3 linked regions of the Homo sapiens genome follow. The protein of the gene in region 1 interacts with the protein of each later gene in a biochemical or structural test. Each region holds a gene or a part of one and is shown on either strand. Other genes may lie near its edges.

Region 1 (7,104 bases):
TCTTGAAGTCATCATGCCCCCATAAGGCTCCTTTGTTATCTCAGGACCACATCAGCCCTAATGGGGGCCTTGAAAGGGCCTCAGGCTCACTCCTCTACTAACTCTGCTCATAAATTGGCAAAGACTGCTTGATTCTCCCTGCTTCCAACACCCTTCTGGACTACAGGAAGAGATACAGAGAGCAGGATGGCTTTCAGACACCTAGGTTGAGAACAGAAAGAAGGGAAAAAAGAGAGAGGGGTGTTCCGACATTCACCGGCACAGCGCTAGGTCAGAAGCAGCCCCATTCTCCACTGCAGGGTAGCTCTGGGTCAAGGCATGGAGGCTTAGGGGTGACCAATTAGACAGGAGATCTGACAAGTAAGAAGAATGCCAGTTCAGAGTGCGGCGTAACCCTGCTGCTAGCCCTGCCTAGCCCTGGGAGACAAACCCAACCTCATTCCCAGCCCAACCTCAACCTCTCCATACAAAGCCAATTAGCCTTAAATAGCTGCTCCTAATGACTTGACCAACCCATCAGGACTTCCACCCAACCCTGCCCTGAGCAGAAACATTCCACCACTCCTGGGTTTTAACATTAAATTAATGAGAGAGATAGGGAAGGGGGCTATCTCACTTTAAAAATCAAGGAGTCCTTGGGGCGCTGTGGCTCATGCCTGTAATCCCAGCACTTTGGGAGACTGAGGAGGACAGATCACTTGAGCTCAGGGGTTGGAGACCAGCCTGGGCAACATGGTAAAACCCCATCTCTACAAAAAAGACAAAAATTAGCCAGCTGTGGTAGCACATGCCTATAGTACTAGCTGCTCAGGACGCTGAGATGGAAGGATCACCTGAGCCCAGGGAGGTTAAGGCTGCAGTGAGCTGTGATTGCACTACTGCACTCTAGCCTGGTCAACAAAGGGAGACCCTGTATCACCAAAAAAAAAAAAAAAAAAAAAAAAAAAAAATCAAGGAGTCTCTCTAGAGAATCTGCTGTTTATAAACAAATAAATGAGTAAGTAAGCCTCTGCCACTTGCAGAGATTTTGCACTTTATAACATGCCTTCAAATGCATGATCTCATTTGATCCTCACACAGATGAGGAGCCCGGGTTGGAGAGTCAGAGCCAGGAGTCAAGCCCAGATCCACAATAGTTGGAATTGAAATTAGAATTTAAAACTCTCTTAGAGGCTGGGTGCAGTGGCTCACACCTGTAATCTCAGCAATTTGAAAGGCCGAGGTGGGAGGATTGCTTGAGCTTAGGAGTTCAAGACCAGCCTGAGCAATACAGTGAGACCCCCATCTCATTTTTGTTTAAAGTGAAAAAAGAAAAAAAAATTAAGATTCTCTTAGGAAACGTTCTTTAATGTGGAGAGTGAATGTTGGGTTGGGCAAAGCAATTGCCTTTCTCTTCCGTGAAGCAGCAGCTTTTCCAGAACTGATGGTGGAGAGCAGAACTGCATGCAGTTGGCTGTTGTAGGTGGTCAACAAACCTTCACTGATTGAGCAATGAGCAGAGCCCAGTAGAAAGCTGTGGGTGGAGAAGTGCACTTGTGAAAGCATAAGAAAAATTTAAAAACACACACATGGACCCATCCTAAGGAATCTTATGATTGGACAGAAGTTTCTAGAAGGCAGGAGCATAGAGTGTGGGTCTGAGGCTTTGTAGGAGGGACTATGACTACCCATGGAGTCCAGGTACCCTCAGTCTGTCACACAGATTCTGGTTTCAGAGACCTAGGACATCACGGAGCACTGCCAGAGAGAATGGCTGTGCTGTCAGCTGTCAGAACTTTTCATCCTGCCTCATGGCAAAGCTCCGGCAGGAAGGGGCATCACCCCATGAGAAAAGCCTTAGAAATGAATGCTATTTCCTTAAGAGAGAAGCATCCCTGCACTTGGAATGGTTCTGATTCAGCCCTGGGGCTGAGGGAAGGGGAGGAGAGCAGGCTCAGCTTCCCCACATAACTTGCTCCTGGGAGCATTTCCTGGGGAACCTCCTGTTGGCTCTGGGAGCAGCTTGGCTAGGCCCAGAGGTTTGGAATGTAAACGGGTCAGAGGACTAGTGAAAAGATAAGTTCCCAAAGGGTCTGGTGCTGCACATGGGGATGAGGAAGGCCTGTGTTTACTGTGGATGAGAAGGCGCGCACAGCCAGCCTGCTGGGTGGAGCTGTGAGTAACCTGCCTGTTCCTCTCACCCCTGACAATGAAGACCAGGGCTGCCCTGGCACTGAGCCAAGGAAACCCCGCCCCGCCCAGCACAGGTCACAGCCACAGTGCCTCACTGCTTTTGCTGGAAGCCCTGGGCAAATTGGTGCCCAGTCCCTGGCATATGCTTTCGGTGACAAAGGCAATGAAGGGATATAGAAAAACTCCCGCCAGTGCTGGGAGCCTCCTTGGGACAGGGCTTCTCACAGTATGAAAGATTTCTAGATCATTTCTAGGCTTCTGGGTGATTAGAAAATAAATTTTTTTTTTTAAATCAGGGTCACAAAAATTGAGGCTTTTAGAAATGTTTGTTTTAGAATACCAATGCTTTAACTACCCCCTTAATTTATATGCAAGATGACTGTTCTGTTTTCCAGAAAATTACAGAACTTACACAATGTTAATTCATAGTTCACCAATTACAAGTGAAGTGGGGTTCAGCCAACAAGACTCAAGCTTAAAGTTTTGCAATTAATGCCTTCTCTTTTTAACCCTTGCAATGTATCTCTGACAATGTTATATCCTTAACGGGAGATCAAGCCAAAAACCTAACTGCAAGGTCCTTTGTGATAGGAGGCCAGGGAAAATGGCCTTCCAGACCTCCTTGGAGAGGCCTGCCTTGGAAGAGACCACCTTAGAGGGAGGTGGAGAAAGACAGTCTCTGCCTTCCTTCCCTTCCGCCTTCCTTCTTTCCTTCCAATACTCAGTGTACTGCGTATGGGCTCATATACGCACACAGAGGATAAGTGAGTGAGTTTGCTTATGTGCATGGGACCTGAAGAGGTGTGTGTGTGAGTGTGCAGACTGGATCTGCTGTTAAACAGCATCTTGGCCTTGGCGAGCCACTTCTTCCTTCCAGTCCTCAGTTTTTGCAAATGGTGGGGTCTGGAGTTGATTGGTGGATTTCAAGCCATTTTTAGCAAAGAAACGTGTCCCCTGCCCCTCAACAAATGAATGCTTCGGCTAAACCTCAATATATATAATAGGTTTTTTTAAAGAGAGCTGCTGAGGTTGGCACAGGGATGGGTTGAGGGTACCCCAGGGCCATCTCCTCAGTCTCCTCCCCACAGGGGTATGTCACAGAAATGAAAGCAGAGTTGGAAAACCACTAGGTTATAGGATCTTTAAGGACCTTTCTGGATTTAACCAGGACGCTAAGGTTCATACATCCTAACATCCCTCTCATGAAGACACTGATGATTTTCTCATGCTGTGAATGGGAGGACTGAGGGCCAGAGTGGTTAAGGGTCTTCTCTGACAAGCCCCAGGACTCCTGACTCGGAGTCCAGTGTGCTTTCTTTCTTTCTTTTTTTTTTTTTGAGAAAGAGTTTTGCTCTTGTTGCCCAGGCTGGAGTGCATTGGTGCAATCTCGGCTCACTGCAACCTCCTCCTCCTGGGTTCAAGCGATTCTCCTGCCTCAGCCTCCCAAGTAGCTGAGATTACAGGTGTCCAACACCACACCCTGCTAATTTTTTGTATTTAGTAGAGATGGGGTTTCTCCATGTTGGTCAGGCTGATCTCGAACTCCTGACCTGAAGTGATCCACCCGCCTTGGCCTCCCAAAGTGCTGGGATTACAGGCTTGTATGCCACTGTCCCACCAGCCCCAATGTGCCTTTTTTTTTTTTTTTTTTTTTTTTGAGATGGAGTCTCACTCTGTCACCCAGGCTGGAGTGCAGTGGTGCAATCTCGGCTCACTGCAAACTCCGCCTCCCGGGTTCACGCCATTCTCCTGCCTCAGCCTCCCAAGTAGCTGGGATTACAGGCACCCGCCACCACGCCTGGCTAATTTTTTGTATTTTTAGTAGAGACAGGGTTTCACCGTGTTAGCCAGGATGGTCTCGATCTCCTGACCTCATGATCTGCCCACCTTGGCCTCCCAAAGTGCTGGATTACAGGTGTGAGCCACCGCACCTGGCCACCAATGTGCTTTCTACCAGCATGTCCCCCGCCCTCTTCAGAGCAGGCTCAACACATCGAGTGGCTAAGCCAATGGCCAGGGAATCCAGAGCCTCAAGCCCTTGTTATTCCCTTACCTGCTGGGTACAGGCAAACAAGGAGATGCTTCCACAGCTCCCTGAGCTCTGCCCATCTTCCCTAGAGCTCTAGTTCTGCCCAACTCTGGCTTCAAAAACATGACAACTAGTTACTGAGGGCCCAAGGATAATGACCTTATGTGTCTTCTCCCTGCAGGTGCATCACCTGGATCATGAGGTCACCCCTCTGCTGGCTCCTCCCACTTCTCATCTTGGCCTCAGTGGCCCAAGGCCAGCCAACAAGACGACCAAGACCCGGGACTGGGCCCGGGCGCAGACCCAGGCCCAGGCCCAGGCCCACACCCAGCTTTCCTCAGCCTGATGAACCAGCAGAGCCAACAGACCTGCCTCCTCCCCTCCCTCCAGGCCCTCCATCTATCTTCCCTGACTGTCCCCGCGAATGCTACTGCCCCCCTGATTTCCCATCTGCCCTCTACTGTGATAGCCGCAACCTGCGAAAGGTCCCTGTCATCCCGCCCCGCATCCATTACCTCTATCTCCAGAACAACTTCATCACTGAGCTCCCGGTGGAGTCCTTCCAGAATGCCACAGGCCTGCGATGGATTAACCTGGACAACAACCGAATCCGCAAGATAGACCAGAGGGTGCTGGAGAAACTGCCCGGCCTGGTGTTCCTCTACATGGAGAAGAACCAGTTGGAAGAGGTCCCCTCGGCCCTGCCCCGGAACCTGGAGCAGCTGAGGCTGAGCCAGAACCACATCTCCAGAATCCCGCCTGGTGTCTTCAGCAAGCTGGAGAACCTGCTGCTCCTGGATCTCCAGCACAACAGGCTGAGCGACGGCGTCTTCAAGCCCGACACCTTCCATGGCCTCAAGAACCTCATGCAGCTCAACCTGGCCCACAACATCCTGAGAAAGATGCCGCCCAGGGTCCCCACCGCCATTCACCAGCTCTACCTGGACAGTAACAAGATTGAGACCATCCCTAACGGATACTTCAAGAGCTTTCCCAATCTTGCCTTCATTCGGCTTAACTACAACAAGCTGACAGACAGGGGACTCCCCAAGAACTCCTTTAATATCTCCAACCTGCTTGTGCTCCACCTGTCCCACAACAGGATCAGCAGTGTGCCCGCCATCAACAACAGGCTGGAACACCTGTACCTCAACAACAATAGCATCGAGAGTGAGTGGGGTGGGCCGGGGCGGGGCCGAAGGCAAGGAGGTTGGCTTGTGTAGCACTTCCACCCTCTCTAGGGAGACTCAGGGTGGGGTGGTATAAAAAGCATCCACTTTGGCACTGGACTTCAATTCATGGCCTTGCCACTTGCTATCTGGGTGACCTTGAAAAGATATTTGACCAGTCTGGGAAGTTTCCTCATCTGTAAAGTGAGAATGGTAACAATATCTTCTATCACAAAGGTGATATGAGGATGTAATAGTTTAATATGGAGAAAGTGCCCAGAATACCATACTTGGAGGGTCATAGGTTTTCTTCCTCCATTCTTCCTCAGCCCCAGTTCCTTGGCAACTGGATCTATAGGTAGGGTAGACATGGAATATACTCCTGGACATTCTGCTAAAAACAGAACAGAGACATTTAAATACCTATCCTGAAATGTCCTGGGTCTGCCCTCTGCAGAAACCTGCCCCTGTGGGAAGATGCTTCTTCCCAAGCCTGAGCCTGGGTTTTGATTCAGGGTATGCAACTGGTAAAAATGTGGCAGTCAGGAAAAGAAGGTCTGCATGCTGGTGCTTTCTGAATCTATCTGGAAGGGTGCGATGTTTAGGTGCACTTAAGGAAGAGTTTGCCTAAGTGACATTTACAGGGTTCTGGACTTGGAGTATCAATTGCAGCCCAGGAGAGGAGGCTGGAAGTTGCAGTTTTGCTTCAATCAAAAATTTCAGCTCGGAGCAGAGCATTAGCAGAAAGGTTTAGAAGTGAAATAATATTTTCTGGTCCTTGAACAAAATCAGCCTACATTCACAGAAGGGATGCAGCAGCAGAAGGGAAGAGAGGGATTGAGGGAAAAGAGAAGGACCCCTAGAATGATATTTGGGGATCCTTAGGTTCCAAACCAAAGAATGAGATGGAGATTGTTGGTGTCTCTACCGACACCAACAATGGGCGAATAGATCGTTCACTCATTTGGGATAATTTCAAGAAGTAGGGGAGGATTTTTTTTTTAATCTTACAAAAAAAAAATGGGAAAAGGGGAAGACTGTATAATTTTACCCTGGAGACAGCACACTAAAATAAAACACATTACCCCCAGGAAGCTATGAGGCCAAAATACAGACAGAAGGGATACCTTGATTAATAAATGGCTGATAGGTCTCTACCAGATTGTGGAAGAACAGGTTGCTGGAGGATATCCCAACCTTCTAAGGTTGAAGTCAGAGAACTCACACCTCACCCACATGAGCCCACCCCATCCAGCCTGTCTCCTGTGCCTTTTACCCGACAGAATGGGCTGAGTGGGGCCTAGGTCAGTGGGGTGATTACGTTCTTCACAATGACCATAATGCTGCCACTGGTACTGTCTTTAAACAGCTTACAAAATGCCTTTGCCAACATTCTCTCCCCTGATTACAGGGCAGGCACCACTCTTACCATTTCACAGATTGAAGAACTCAGCATGAGGGTGGCTAGGCCACAGCCCCAAGCTCATAAGAGAAAACCCCCGTGTCAGGGCCCTTCTGCTACTCCAATGGCAAAGAAGAAAGACGAGGAAAAGGAAGAGGAAGACAATTACAATGAAGATGATGCCTACTCTTCCTCCTCCTGCTCCTCCATAAATGATAAGTGAGGCAAGGCTTAGGGAGAATAAAACAGTTCATTTAAATGCTGGCATGCCTGGTGCCACAGGCATCCAACAAGATGTGATGGAGGAAATGGAATCTCAGGCCATGGACCCT
Region 2 (7,104 bases), on another chromosome or scaffold:
TGCAACGGATTGTGTTGTTTCTGGGTTCAGGTTTTTACAAGAAGCAGACCGGCCCTATGTCCACACCGAATTCCTGCTCGGGCCCTCCTATGTCCATGGGTGCAATGTCAATGATGGGGAGGCGTGAGGTCTTCTGTGACCGGTACTCGATAACAGTCTTGCCCCACTTACCGGTATGTTTCTAGGGGAGAAAAAAGGAGGAGGCTCTGTTCAGTAGATGCCTTGCTACCCAGTTCCAGCTGCCCAGAAGCCCAAAACTGAACAAACTGGCGAGCATCAGAGCCCACAAGGTTGAACCACACTGAGGGGGCTCCTGAGACCTCTTCTTGGCTTGCCAAAGGCCTCTCCACTTCAACTCCTATCCTTAGCGGCAGGGCCCTTCTCCACCCTGCCCTTCCCCTCCTTCCCCACTCCCCACAGTGAGCTCCCAACCTGTGACCGCTTCTTCACCCTGTACACATTGCGAGAACACTTCTACAGTAGTCACTGGGTTCCAGGTAGGGTTTTGTTCCCCTGAGCCAGGGGAATGGAGAAGATGGAATGATATGTGCCTCTCTCTCACCTGTCACTCAGCCTATCTTCTCTACATGACCCTCAAACTCATGCCTCTGATGATCCTGTCACTTTAGGACCTGACAGCTGCCGCGGGCCAACCCTCAGCCCTGCTCCAGGCGGTTTGGGCACAGGCAGCTCTTCTCTCTGGCAGCCCCACTCACCGTGCAGCCATCCTTCAGGGCAGTGTACGTGAACCTGCTATTGCCCTCTGCCCGGATCTCCACGTCATTGGAGCCCTGGATGAGCAGGGCCTTCTTGAGGTTGCCAGCTGCTTCGTCCAGATAGGCAATGCTGTTCTTGCAGTGGTAGGTGATGTTCTGGGAGCCTTCCGTGGACAGCAGGCGTAGGAAGGTCATCTGGACGTTGGCAGTGTTGGGAGCCAGATTGTCATCTCCATAGCTGAACTGTTGGGGCAGAGAGCGGCAGTGTGAGGCCTGGGAGCTGGCATTCAATGGGACCAGGGGCTGTAGGGGCTGCCAAGAGTTCATGGTTCAAGGACCTCAAGGGTACTGGGGCAGCAGGGAGCTAGTTGGACATTTTTGCTTCCAGGAGTGGAGCAAGCTCAGAGGACCTCTTTTCCCACCTCCACGTGGGGAAAAAATACTTTTCCTCCTCTTTCCCTCCTCTCAAGCCCAACAGAAAACTGGAGGAAAATATGGGGAAGGTGCTAAAAGCTTCCAGGGAGAAAGAAAAGAAAGAGTTTGAGGAGCCATCTCTGCTCATCATCTAGGGCACCCAGGTACTCACATGGAAGCCACCATTGATGGTTTCTCCAAACCAGATGTGTTTCTTCTCCTTGCTCTTGCTGCTCCACCAGTTCTTCTTGGGAACGTTTGCTGGATTGGGGTAGACGCAAGTCTCGCCAGTCTCCATGTTGCAGAAAACCTTCATGGCGTCCAAGGTGCAGCCTTGGTTGGGGTCAATCCAGTAGTCTCCTGCAGGGGGAAGAGGCAGCACCCATGGGGGCTCAGACAGGCACAGACACAAAAGCTTGAGAGACCCAGGCCTGACTGAAAGAGACAGAGAGGCCTACAGGGACAAGGGATGAGGTTCACATGTGGCCTGAAAGGAGGGGGACCTGGGAGGATGCAGGGGCAGGGAGATCTGCATGAGCTAAGTCCAGCCCTAAGGAAGAACACATGCAAAGAGAGCAGAAGCAGTGCCCAGCTGGTGGATGGAGTCCACCCTGAGGTCACCTCGGCCAGGTAGCCATGGCAGGACAGGGGCCAGGGCTGCAGCTTCTCTGCTGTGAAATAAGAGAGGAACCCTCTGGCGGAAACTTCCAGGCCCAGCTCTGCCCTGTACTAGGGGGCATCTCCTCCCTTGCTGCTAGGCCTAAGGGATGACTCCCTGCTTCCCGGGGCAGGGGATCCTGTTCTCCAAGCTTACCACTCTTCCACTCAGGGTGGCAGAGTTTCAGGTCTCTGCAGGTGCGAGCAGGGTTCTTGCGGGAGCCCTCGGGGCTGCGGATGCTCTCAATCTGGTTGTTGAGGGACTTGAGTGTGGCATCCACCTCGGCGTCATGCTGTCTCAGGCCACCGGCTGCCTGGTCGGCCCGCATGTACTGCAGGGGGTCGGGGCCCTTCTCTCTCGGGCCTAAGCCAGCAAAGGCGGACATGTCGATGCCAGGGCCAGGGGGACCTGGAGGACCAGGGGGTCCAGGATTTCCAGGAGGACCCTGCAGCAGGAAACAGAGAGATCAGCCAGGATTGTGTGAAAGTGCCCCTCCATGTCCATCCCCATTTGCTAGAATGTACTAGAGTGTCCCTCTTCCCAGCCCCATGGGTGGGGCGGAGGTGTAGCAGGCGAGGACCAAGGAAACCACAGCACCATGTCTATTTCTTCCTTAGCCCTTCTCTTCAGTTTCCCAGCACTGATCATGGGCCCTGTGACCTCTGAGGAGACCTCAGGATAAAGGATGCCATCACTGTTAGCTGCAGGCTGATGCCCTAAAAGAGGCCCTGAGCAAAAAAGAGCTCAAGCCTCCCGGATGGTAGGGACACCTCGACAGCAGGGAAGGAGTCAGGACACTTACAGCAGGGCCGGTTTCGCCTGATCGTCCACGGGGACCAGGAGGCCCAATGGGGCCAGGGATTCCATTAGCACCATCTTTGCCAGAGGGACCGACGGGGCCAGGAGGACCCTGCAAGAGAGAGAGGTCGTGAGGAAAGAGTGGTCACCACAGGGAAGGCTGGGGAGTCGCTGGGGCTGGGTAGGTGGCTGTCCTGATAGCACCAGCCACTCCGCCCCCAGTTCTTCACATGCTCAGTCATGGAACCCTAAGTTGGTCTCTATTTGGCCAAGAACCAGCAGGATAGCTCCATGGCTTGCCTACCCTCCTAAGCTCCTCTTTGTAAAATGCTGTTCTGTCTGACAGCGAGAGGCTGATTCATGTTTGTCTTACAGCCATTGTGGCCTCAGGCGCTTTTCTGGCCATAGGCACATGAGCCAGTCCTGCCCCCATTACTGAGTGAGGACCCCTGAGCCCACAGCTTCCCCAGAAGCAGCAGCATTTCCCTCCCCATGGGAACACAGGCCCACACTCTCTGAAGGGCCCCCTCCATCTTCCAACTCCATGTCACTTACTCTAGGGCCAGAAGGACCAGCAGGACCAGAAGCACCTTGGTCTCCAGAAGGACCCTGTGTAGAAGGAAGAGGCAAAAGGCCACGGTCAGCACAGACATATCTATCTATATTCTGGGAGCTGGGGGAACAGCTTTATGTCCCAGCCCCATTCCCTTTCCACTTCCTCCTCCCTCCAGCCCTGAGGAAATCCTAGAAACTGCTTAGGGTGATCCCAAGCTGTCCTGGCAGCACAGGGAGCTCAAGTGGGCTCTGTGTGGCAGGAGGCCTCGGGAAGTCCCACGCAGGCAGTGACACTCACAGGAGGGCCGGGCAGACCCTGCAGACCAGTGAAGCCACGGTGTCCCTTCAGGCCTCTCTCGCCAGGCTCTCCAGCCTCTCCTTTGTCACCTCTGGGGCCTTGAGGACCCTGGGAACAAGACAGACACCGATTGAGTCAGGTCAGGGCCAGGACAGGAGCCCCCTCCTGTCCCACCCAAGCTGAGGAATCCCCGGAAACACAGGGCTGGAGGCCCAGGAACCACCTGGAGGCTGGCTGCCCTCCCAGCCTATCCCTGGTGGGGACTCAGTGCAGGACACTTGGATACTCACCTGGATTCCCCGGGCTCCAGCTGGTCCTGAGGGTCCCATGGGGCCTTGTGCACCCTGAGGAGAGAGTGAGCGCAGCGTCAGAGAAAAGCCAGGACAGGTGGGGGCCTCCTCTGCATCTGAGGCCACTGCTCCTTAGTCCAGAGACTGCGGAAACCCAGGGACTGCCTCAGCCCCACCGCGCAGGGGAAGGCGGCTTTTACTGAATTCAGGATACTTACAGCTTCTCCTCTGTCTCCTTGCTTGCCAGTTGGACCAGCGGGGCCAGGGGAGCCAGGGGGCCCAGGGGCTCCAGGAGCTCCCACAGCACCAGTCTCACCACGATCACCCTGTCAGGAGAGAGGTCTCAGGCTCAGAGAAGAATGTTCCAGAAGAGACAGGAACAGAAGGTCCTTCTAGGCTGAGATGAGACTTGTTCCAACCTGCCACCCCCAGCTGACCTGTCAGGCCCGAGGCAATGTCCTCCCCAACCCACTGCACACACAGACACCAGACACTCACCTTGACTCCAGCAGCGCCATCTCTGCCAGGGGGGCCATCAGCACCGGGGCTTCCCTGGACAAAGTGAAACAAGAATGCACTTAGAGCTGCTTCCTGCCCATCTCCCCCTCTGCTCCCCCAGCCCCTCTCAGAAGCCCAGGCCTCTCCTCTTCTGCCCAACTCACTCACACTTTGAAGCCAAAGTTTCCTCACCAAGTTTCCCTCCTCCTTCCGGAAGCAGCCCTTGGTCTCTATGCCCGTCTCTCTCCCCGACAACCTTCCCATTGTACCTAGGCTTTCAGGCCTGTCGGCCGACACTGCCACCCCCTTCTCCAGGGCCCTGACTGGGACTTGTCCTTGCTGACCCAGCACAGAGACTCACAGGGCCCCTCTCCCCAATCAGGGCCACCCCAGGGGGTCTCACTGCTCACCTCTCGTCCAGGTTCACCTGCAGGACCCGTCAGGCCAGGAGGACCCACGGGGCCAGGAGGACCTCTGTCTCCAGATGCTCCAGGAGCACCCTGCTTGCCGGGCTCACCCTGGAGGGACAGAGACAAGGATGATGAGTGCAAGTGGTAAGCACCCCTGCCCAGGGCCCACTGACCCTTCAGGGAGAGGGCAGACAAGGGACAGTCCTGAGGGTGCTGAGGGAGGTAGAAGCCTTGGCAGGCAGGGCCCAGCTTGGATGGAGGGAGGGATACCCCACACTCACCGACGGGCCAGGCAAGCCAGGGAATCCTCTCTCACCACGTTGCCCAGGCAGACCGACGATGCCTCTCTGACCAGCCAGACCCTGGGGACCTGGTGGACCTTCGGCACCCTGAGAGAGGAGAGGCAGGAGATGAGAACTGACAGTGGCCCAGCCTCTTCTGTCCTCTCAGCACAGCTCTGTCTGTGCAGCCCCGCTCCCTGGCATCCCCACGGCCCCTGCTCCCTCCTACCCCATGCTCTGTGAGCTCAGAAGCCACTCACGACCCTGCTCCCAGGGACCTTGGCATGGGCCTGGTGAGGGACTTACAGAGGGACCGTCATCTCCAGGCTCTCCCTTCTCGCCAGGGGGTCCAGCAGGACCTTGGAGGCCGGGTTCACCAGCTCGGCCAGGGGGGCCGCTGTCTCCTCGAGCACCTTTGGGACCATCTTTTCCAGAAGGACCAGGGGGACCAGGGGGTCCAGGGTTGCCCTAGAAGGAGAAAATGCGGGAAGTGAGGACTCATCTCACCCTTCCTCATCCAGGCTGCCAAAGTCACTGTGGCCTCAGTGACAGCAGTTTCCTCTCTGGGGGCTTCTCTACCTCCCCACACTAAGGGCAGGCAGCTTAACCCCCCCAACCCCAATCTACCGCTGCAACCTTCTCACCATGTGAGACAGCTCTGGGCAGACAGCCCCAACTTCTCCAGCTCCTGCTTGCTTTGCTTTCTCCCATCTACCTGGAATCTCTCCTCCCTCCTCCCTTTGTCCTCAATCCCCCTTCCTCAGGAGCCGCTCCAGCCCTGCCCCTCTGACCCCTGAGCTTGCCCCCAGCACTCTCTCCCTCTGCCTATGGCGCTGGTGAACCCAGTGAGTTCATCACCACTGCTCCCTCCATGCAAACTCCCTGAGAGCGACCCAGGACATGCGGACTTGCTTTAAAGCACACAGACAAGTGCACAGAACATGCTCAAGAAACATCTGTCCAGGATGAAGGTAATCATGGCAGCCCTGTCCTGCCCACCAAGCCAGCAGGGCAGCCACCCATTGCTGACAGCAGGGCCACAACCCTGCCCCCAGCCACCCTCAGGGGATAGGTCCCCATGATCAGTTAGCTACTCCTCCAGGGGGCAGGAACGGACTCAGAGGAGTGAAGGCCAGCCTGGAGCTCTCCAGACCCTGTTGGGTGCTGGGCCAGGCTATTCCATGCCTGCCTGTGCCTCTCATGCCAGGAGCATCACTTACATTGGAGCCTGGGGGTCCAACGCGGCCAGCAGCTCCAGGGAATCCAGTGGCTCCCTGTGTGGGGAGAGGAGAGCCCCTGAGAACCTCAAGCCCTCAGGAGGTTTGAGATTAAAATGGGCGGGGGGCGGGGGTGGTCTCAGAGCCTGGTATGGAAAGGGCGAGGGACTGCAAAGCAGCAAGGGGGATCCAGGGAGGGAGAAAGGGCCCCCGGGTCTGGTCATAGAAGCAGGCACAGGCTGTTTCCCTGCCTCCGGTTTCCACAGTCAGCACTTCAGGGAGCTGAACGAGGGACAAGCCTCGGGCTGGGGAATCCGGGACCACAGTGCACCCAGCCCACAGGCGCCCTCTCTCCCACCTGGCTGTGGGTGGGCTTAGGCTGGGGACCAACGCAGGGCTGGGAAAACAGTCGGGGGCATCCCAGAACACCCCCGCCATGGGAGCCTCTGGGGCCAGGCCTCTTTGTGAGGTGCAGGGTGGGGTGTCAGAGGCCTCACTCACCGGGGGGCCTTGGGCACCTCGGGCTCCTTTAGGACCAGTCACTCCAGTAGGACCCTGGAAAGGAAAGAGGGAGACAGTGAGGCCCAGTGGCCCAAGGAAGACGGTGGGCTTCTGTCTGAGCCCCAACAATGGACCCCTGAGGTTTTCGAAGATGCAGCTTTCTTGGCACTAAAAACCCAGCCTGAAGAGGCTGCCACAGGCAGCTCTGTCCCCTCTGCCACAGGAGACTTGTGTTCTAGGAGAAGCCTGTCAGGCAACCACAGAACCGGTCTGGGGTCTGGCCTCCCGGGAAGCTCTTCCTGCCACCGCCCCCTCCTCCCCAGGAGATCAGCAGCTTGGTTCTGGCTGGCTGTGGCCAGCCTGTACTCTGTCAGTCCCTACACCCCACCCACACAGCCCACATGCCACATGGAAGCTCCTTCTACCAACATGGGGGTGTTCCCAGGCCTGCGAACCATCCTCTGCGCA
Region 3 (7,104 bases), on another chromosome or scaffold:
TCCCTGCAGTCCACTCACAGACCCCTGGCTGAAGTCCTGTGGCCCAAGGATAAAGAAAAAACTCCTAACGGAGACATTCAAAGCCCTTCACCAACTAACCCCACCTAGCTTTCCTAACCCATCCCCCTCTGTTGTCCTCCACAAACCCAACTCCTGCTAAACTGGAAAACTCTCTCTAGTTCCCAACCCCTTATCTTTCTCTCATCATTAGCTCAACCTGCGATGCCCTCTCTCCTGAAACTCTCCTAGAACCCTGAACACCCAAATCCCACCCCATGCTTTAAAGCCAAGCCCTGAGGGTGGGATAAGTAGGTAGATGGATGAATGGGTAGGTAGGTGGGTGGGTGGGTGGGTGGGTGGGTGGATGGGTGGATGGATGGATGGATGGATGGACGAGTGAATGGATGGGTGGCTAAAAAAGTAGGTAGGTGGGTGGATGGGTGGGTAAGTGAACAGATGGGTGGGTGGGCGGGTGGATGGATGGGTGTGTGGGTATATGGATGGGTGGGTGAGTGGAGAGGGGTAGATTAATTAATCCGTATGGCCCGAGCACAGGGCTGGCAGAGAGGATGGGATGAATTATGAATGTGAGTATCCCAGAAGGGCCTTCAGAAACAGAAAAGGCTTCCCTGAAGTCACCTGGCTAGTCACTGGCTAAGTGACCTAAACAACCAAGGTACGTGTCCACCTTTCATACAGAGGCACTTTCACTCCTGCGTCCGCCTTTTAGTCTCACAAAGGGCTGAGATCCTAGACTTGGGTGGCGGGGTGGGGGGAGTGGTGCCAGCAAAAGACAGGCAGAGAGAGACACAGAGACTGACAGAGACAAGGAAAGAGATCCATTAGTGAGACAGAAAGAGACCAAGACAGAGATGGAGAGAAGCACAGACCGAAAGCCAAGCAGACAGCCAGAGACAGACAGCGATGGAGACAGGCAGGCGGGGCCGGCCTACGGCAGAACCAGGCTCCCTTGGCCACCACAGCATCTGGAAGGAGGCAGCAGCCAGGGGAGCGGGCAGCCCAGTCTCTCTGCGAGTCCCTCAGGCCTTTGCTGTGCCCAATTTATTTGCACGGCCCTGAAATTTAGGAATTTCTCAGGGCTGCCAGTGAGGCGGCCAGTGTACAACCAACAGCGGGGTCTGGCCCAGTCTGTGGTATAACCGTTGGGCTCAAGAGCCTTGGAGGCCCCCAAGGCAGTCAGCCCCTGCTGCCAAAGCCAAGGGAGACAGCCAGCAGGACCAAGCTCTGGACTCCCAGAGATCAGAGCTCAAATTTGAACCTAGCCCTGCCACTAGGCTGCTGGGCACCTCGGAGCATGTGACCCTCTGAGCAGCAATGCTTTCATCTGCACAGTGGGTCTAATCACTGCAGCCTTTCTCCTCTGGGGAACCCCCCTTCACACTTCAGGCTACGTGGACTGCTGGATGGCCAATGAGAGGAGTCCCTGCCCCATCCACAGTGACAGGTCAGAGCAGTCACACGACCCAGTCACATGGCCCATGCTGATGCTCCTGGGAGGAGGCTGCCTTGCTCCAGAGCTTCTGAGCTCGAGGGTGAGCCTGGAGCTGCTGGGGCACCTGACCACCACACGGCAGAGCCTGCCTGGGAGTATGGAACACAGAGAACAGCAGAGCAAGAGATGGAGACCCGGTCCTGATGGCATCTGCAGAGGCCCTGGATACAGCCATGCCTGAAGCTACACCCTGTATTTTTTTAGTTCCATGACTTTTTTGCTGAAATTGTACTTTCTATCACCTGTAACCAAAATTATCCTGACATTTGTGAAAACAAAGAAAGAAGAACCACCTTCTTGTATTCATGGCTGACTTAACCCCAAAATGTCTGAGTTGCTGGGGTTATGTGTCCCTGCAGTAGACTAGACCCCTCCTAGGGCAGCAGGCTGCCTCGCTCAGTCCCCAGGCTCAGGGAATGGCTCCAGACATGCGCCTGGGGCCACATCAACGCATGACCTCCTGACCCTCCCCAGCCACAGCTGACTGGCCCAGGGCAGATGTTCTTCCCAGGCTGGGCTGGTCACAGCTCCTCCCTGAGCTCTTGAAGTGGAAATAAAAGAAAGCACAGACCACCTGCAGAGGAAGAAACAGCAAGTTCTGAAGGTGGGCACATTTCCTGCCATGTGGCGGGCCTCATTTCGAGAGAATCAACCAGGCTCACAGAGAAAGGCAGAGACAAAAGAAAGATGGGGCGTGAGGGAGTCCTGGTGGCTGCAACTTGACCCAGGGCTGACAGATCACTAGTCCTTCCAGGAGGATGTAGTGGGGCCCCTACGTCTCCTGAATAGCCTCAGACACAGACAAGCCTGTGCAAAGGGGCCCCTGCTTCCAGCAATGGGCAGGCCAACTTCCGAAGTCACTGTGGGGGACCAAGCCCAGGTCATAGGTGGGCTACAGTGTCATGTGCTGATGCCCAACCAGACCCTGGGAACCCCAACGTCTAGGGCCAAAGAGGGGTCACTCCTCCCATCCCATGCACAGGAAGCCATGGCCTCCCCACCACACCCTGCCTTGGGGTCACACAGGGACTGGCAGCTGGTGTTACAGTGTTTCCATCCTCAGCAGTTCATTAAACCAGTCTGTTACAGGCTGAACATCTGTGTCCTCCCTACATTTCTATGTGAAAGCCCTGACCCCAGTGGGATGGTATCAGGGGGTGGGGCCCCCCATTAGGAGGTTTAGATGAGGTTACATGGGTGGAGCCCCCATGTGTGGATTAGTGTCCTTACAGAAAGAAAGACCAGAGCTCACTAGCTCTCCCTCCCTCCCTCCCTCTCTTCCCTTCTCTCTCTCTCTCCGTCCGCCGCTTCCCACCCCCCACCTTGTGAGGACACAGCAAGAAGGCAGCCACGTGCATGCCGGGAAGAAAACTCTCACCAGGAACGAAATCTAGGGCTTAGACTTCCAGCCTCCACAACTGAGAAATAAATGTCCATCTTCAATCTCCTCCCCGACTCATCTGTGACATTTGTTATAGCAGCCGGAACCCGCCAGGACAGTCTTAGGGCACGGAGCTGGGGGCACAGAGGACATGGCCACTCCCTGAGAGCCAGACACTTGGTCTCAGAGAAGACATTCCTGCTAGAGGGCTGGGGCCTCCTCCATCAACCCCAGCCTAGCACGAAACATGCCAAGGCAGCCCCAGGAGATGTGAGGTATGTGACGCCCCTACCACAGGGGACTTCCTGGGCAGGGATAGAGATGACTGTTCCAAGGACAGCTGATTTCAGGGACAAGCACCAACGCTCGGTGATCTTGTGAGGAAATGTCCCCGCGAATCCCTCTGAACCAATCTGGCTATTGGAGACCGTCTCTAGACAGCACGGGTGTGCCTCCCACACCTCTCAGACGCTTGCCAACCATTCTTTTTAAAAACCAGGGTGCTGGGCACAGTGGCTCACGCCTGTAATCCCAGCACTTTGAGAGGCCAAGGCGGGTGGATCACAAGGTCAGGAGATCGAGACCATCCTGGCTAACACGGTGAAACTCCGTCTCTACTAAAAATACAAAAAATTAGCCAGGCATGGTGGCGGGCGCCTGTAGTCCCAGCTACTCGGGAGGCTGAGGCAGGAGAATGGTATGAACCTGGGAGGCGGAGCTTGCAGTGAGCCGAGATGGCGCCACTGCACTTCAGCCTGGGCAACATAGCGAGACTCCATCTCAAAAAATAAATAAATGAATAAAAATAAAAATAAATAAAAAAAAAACAGGGAACACTCACTCGGGCTCAAGGCTGTGGCAGGGCATACAAGGTGGCTAAGATGCTAAGCACTGTATTTTTAGTGCCATATTTATTTTTATGGGTATTGCTGGTTTAGGACAAGTGATCCTGATTTCTGTCTACAGTTGTGATCAAAGGTTTCCTTTAAAAGTAAGTATAAGCAGCCAAGCACAGTGGCTCACGCCTGTAATCCCAGCACTTTGGGAGGCCAAGACAGGTGGATCACCTGAGGTCAGGAGTTTGAGACCAGCCTGGCCAACATGGTGAAACCCCATCTCTACTAAAAATACAAAATTAACCCAGTGTGGTGGCACGCACCTGTAGTCCCAGCTACTCGGGAGGCTGAGGCAGGAAAATCACTGGAACCTGGGAGGCAGAGGTTGCAGTGAGCCGGAATCGCACCACTGCACTCCAGCCTGGGTGACAGAGTAAAATTCAGTATTTAAAAAAAAAAAAAAAAAAAAAAGTAAATATAAGCAAAACAGGGAAGGGATTTTTTAAAATAACATTAAGTTATTAAGTATGATGTCAAGGACAGGAGGTAGGAGGATGCAGCCGAAAACACGGTGGTGAAACTCATCCTCACTCTGTCAGAAAGGAAGCTGACACCCTCTGGCTTATTCCCCAAGAAAGTGCACAGGTCCCCGTAGAAGCCCTCTGCCTCTACCAGCCCCATAATCAGACAACAGCCATCAGGGCCCCTGGGATGCCCATGGGCCAAAACGGTGAAATTAATTTGTTTCCACAGCCATGCAGGGGAGCAGAGATGAGGGAGGACATTGAGATGCTCAGCCAACACCAACCACCACGAGGACTAGGGAAGTTGTCTAAGAAAACACAGTGATGAGCGAGATCTTCAGAGACAGACAAGAGACAGAGAGAAAGAGAGAACGTGTGTGTGGGCACGCGCATGCATGCTCATCAATGTTTTTTGACGATGTGTTTTCATTTTGAGGAGACTCTAAGAAGAACAGAACTTTCTGGATCATCTAAAAGCTCAACTTGGGACCAAGGTTGGGGCTGGGAATTCAGGGCCAGGATGGGGGTCCCAGGCTAAGGAGGGAAGAACTCTGGGAGGCTTATCAAGCACTGGGGTACCCCGATCACAAGCCCAAGGGCTGGCCCCAACACAGATGATGGTGTCTCCGTGGCCAGAAGACAGAAGCCACGGGAGACACAGGTGGCTGCACTCAGCCACACTCAAGAACCAGCTACGGCCAGCAGCACTGTCCGCCTCCCCAGAGTGGGCCTGGGGCTCTCCATTCATCCTTCAGCCTTCACACCAACCCTACTGGGGGCCCCTACCACCAGGCCCATTTTCCAGATTGAGAAGCTAAGGATAGGAGACAAATCCCTCATGATGCAGGCTCCGGGGGCTCAGGCCCAGGCAATGCTCAACTCCCACGGTGCTCCCCACGCGCCCAGCTGGGCCTCATCACACTTCAGAGCCCTCCTCCTGTTTCAAGGCTCTTCCTGGGCAACAATGTCAGCATAGCCAGGGGGGCGCCCCCGATTCACAGATGAGCAACCAGAAGCCCGACAAGGTGTGAGACCTGGGACTGGCAGGGTCTGCCTGAGCACATGGGTGCTCCCCTCCACATCCCTGGCCCGGCACAGGTGGGTGGCACCACTTCCTCACCAGCACACAGACCTGGGCGGGACGCACTGGCCGCCTACAATACAGCCCCTCTCAGGAAAGCCAGGCTCCCCACCCTCGAGGAAGGAAATAACCTTTCCCCAAACCAGCACTTGCTTTGCAACAATCTCCATATATGAGGGGAGAGAGAGGCATTTCTGCAACGTTTCCAAATTCCAATAACTGAAGACAATGGCACAAAATGACGCACGGCTTGACCCACGAGGGGCCCTGGGAAAGGACGTGCCCAGCTGAGGCGAGTTTGTGGTGTGGGCGTGCAGTGGTGCCCCGTACACGAGGGCAGCTCGCCAGGCAGGACCTGGAGGTGGACGGAGCTGGCTCCCGTCCCAGCTCTTCCTCCTCAGTCGCTATGTGACTGCAGGCAAGCACGCCCCACTCTGCGCCTCAGTTTCCCGGCCCTGTCACTCTCACAGGTCTCCCACCTGCCGCCTTGTCCTCTCCAGGCCCACTCCTACACCTGGGCTGCAGAGGGACCCTTCAACCTCACAGTCTGGCCGCGCCTCCTCTGCTCGGAACGCCCTGAGGCTGCCTGTTGCTCGCTCGCAGACCAGGACTGGAGGGCCTCCGTTTTCAGGGTCTAGTTGGCCTTGCCAGCCTTACTTCCCACTCTTCCTCCAAGCCCCCACTCTGAAAGAAGCCAGGCTTTCTTCTGTCCCCAGGTGCCCCTCACCCCTGTACCTTCATATCACAGTGCCTGCGCCACCTCCAGGAAGCCCTCCCTGACCACCCAGGCTCAGCTAGATGCCTCCTCAGTTCCCATGGCTTCAGCGTTCTCCTCCAGGATGGCCCCGACAAAGCATTTCAGAGCAACCCATGCAGGCACCCCTGGGGATGACCTTAAAAGGGGCCCTGTGTTCCGCTCCTCTGTACACCAGCCCCTGGCACAGCATTGGCCCACACCAGAGGCTACTGCCAGCACTGTGGGGTGATGAAGAGAATCCAAGGCCCTGGGCACACTCCCTGGCAAAGGGTTTCATAGAGCTGCTAAAGCAGGAACGCCAACTCCAGGGAGCCCCTCCCTGGCCGCCCCCACACAACACCCAGTCACAGCTCCCAGCCCTCCCGAGGTGAAGCCACAAACCCACTGCTCCCACCACCCTATAATGCCTGGCTGGAGGTACAGCCCTGTGGTCCCCTCTGCCCCTGTAGCATACAGGAGCAGCGCCTCTGTCTGGTCTATTGGGAGGGTAGACCTCTGCAGCCCCAGCATTCAGAAGGCGCCCTGGAGGCAGAGCTGCCTGCAGCCACACGGACACCTGCACCACCCACACTCGGGGACCTGGGGAAGGAAACTGGATGACAGAGGGCTGCTAAGGACCAGAAGCCATGCATGGTGTTTACGTCCACCACCGGGCAGGACAGCCGGCCTCACCCTGGCCTCCCCTTTCACTCACTCCACTTCCAATCCATCAAGAAATCCTGGCAGCCCCACCTGCAAAGTCAGTCCAAATCTGACCACTCTCACCTCCAATGCTGCCACTGCCCTAATCCAAGCCCCAACTTCTCTCACCTGGAAGCTGCATGGATCCCCACAGCTGCCCTCCAGCCTGTTCCCTGCCAGCAGCAGTGTGGGGGAAGGGACCTTTAGGATCTCAATTAGACCCCACCCCTCCCCAAACCAGAATCCACCAGCAGCTCCTCATCACACCCAATCACCTGCACCTGCTGTGAGTGAGGATCACTTGAGGCCAAGAGTTCAAGATCAGCCTGAG

Evidence for each region.
Region 2: the proteins of PRELP (region 1) and COL2A1 form a complex in vitro, tested with the Homo sapiens proteins (one study listed by BioGRID).
Region 3: the proteins of PRELP (region 1) and FBLN2 form a complex in vitro, tested with the Homo sapiens proteins (one study listed by BioGRID).

Annotation. Positions count from the first base shown.
Region 1 is NC_000001.11:203,478,787-203,485,890, forward strand, and holds part of PRELP (prolargin precursor), read left to right. Parts: intron 1-4,382; 5' UTR 4,383-4,398; coding exon 4,399-5,371; intron 5,372-7,104. UniProt on the Homo sapiens protein: May anchor basement membranes to the underlying connective tissue.
Region 2 is NC_000012.12:47,973,373-47,980,476, forward strand, and holds part of COL2A1 (collagen alpha-1(II) chain isoform 1 precursor), read right to left. Parts: intron 6,691-7,104; coding exon 6,637-6,690; intron 6,193-6,636; coding exon 6,139-6,192; intron 5,387-6,138; coding exon 5,225-5,386; intron 5,027-5,224; coding exon 4,919-5,026; intron 4,746-4,918; coding exon 4,638-4,745; intron 4,282-4,637; coding exon 4,228-4,281; intron 4,056-4,227; coding exon 3,948-4,055; intron 3,784-3,947; coding exon 3,730-3,783; intron 3,548-3,729; coding exon 3,440-3,547; intron 3,196-3,439; coding exon 3,142-3,195; intron 2,699-3,141; coding exon 2,591-2,698; intron 2,234-2,590; coding exon 1,945-2,233; intron 1,491-1,944; coding exon 1,303-1,490; intron 960-1,302; coding exon 717-959; intron 182-716; coding exon 35-181; 3' UTR 1-34. UniProt on the Homo sapiens protein: Type II collagen is specific for cartilaginous tissues. It is essential for the normal embryonic development of the skeleton, for linear growth and for the ability of cartilage to resist compressive forces.
Region 3 is NC_000003.12:13,552,045-13,559,148, reverse strand, and holds part of FBLN2 (fibulin-2 isoform a precursor), read right to left. Parts: intron 1-7,104. UniProt on the Homo sapiens protein: Its binding to fibronectin and some other ligands is calcium dependent. May act as an adapter that mediates the interaction between FBN1 and ELN.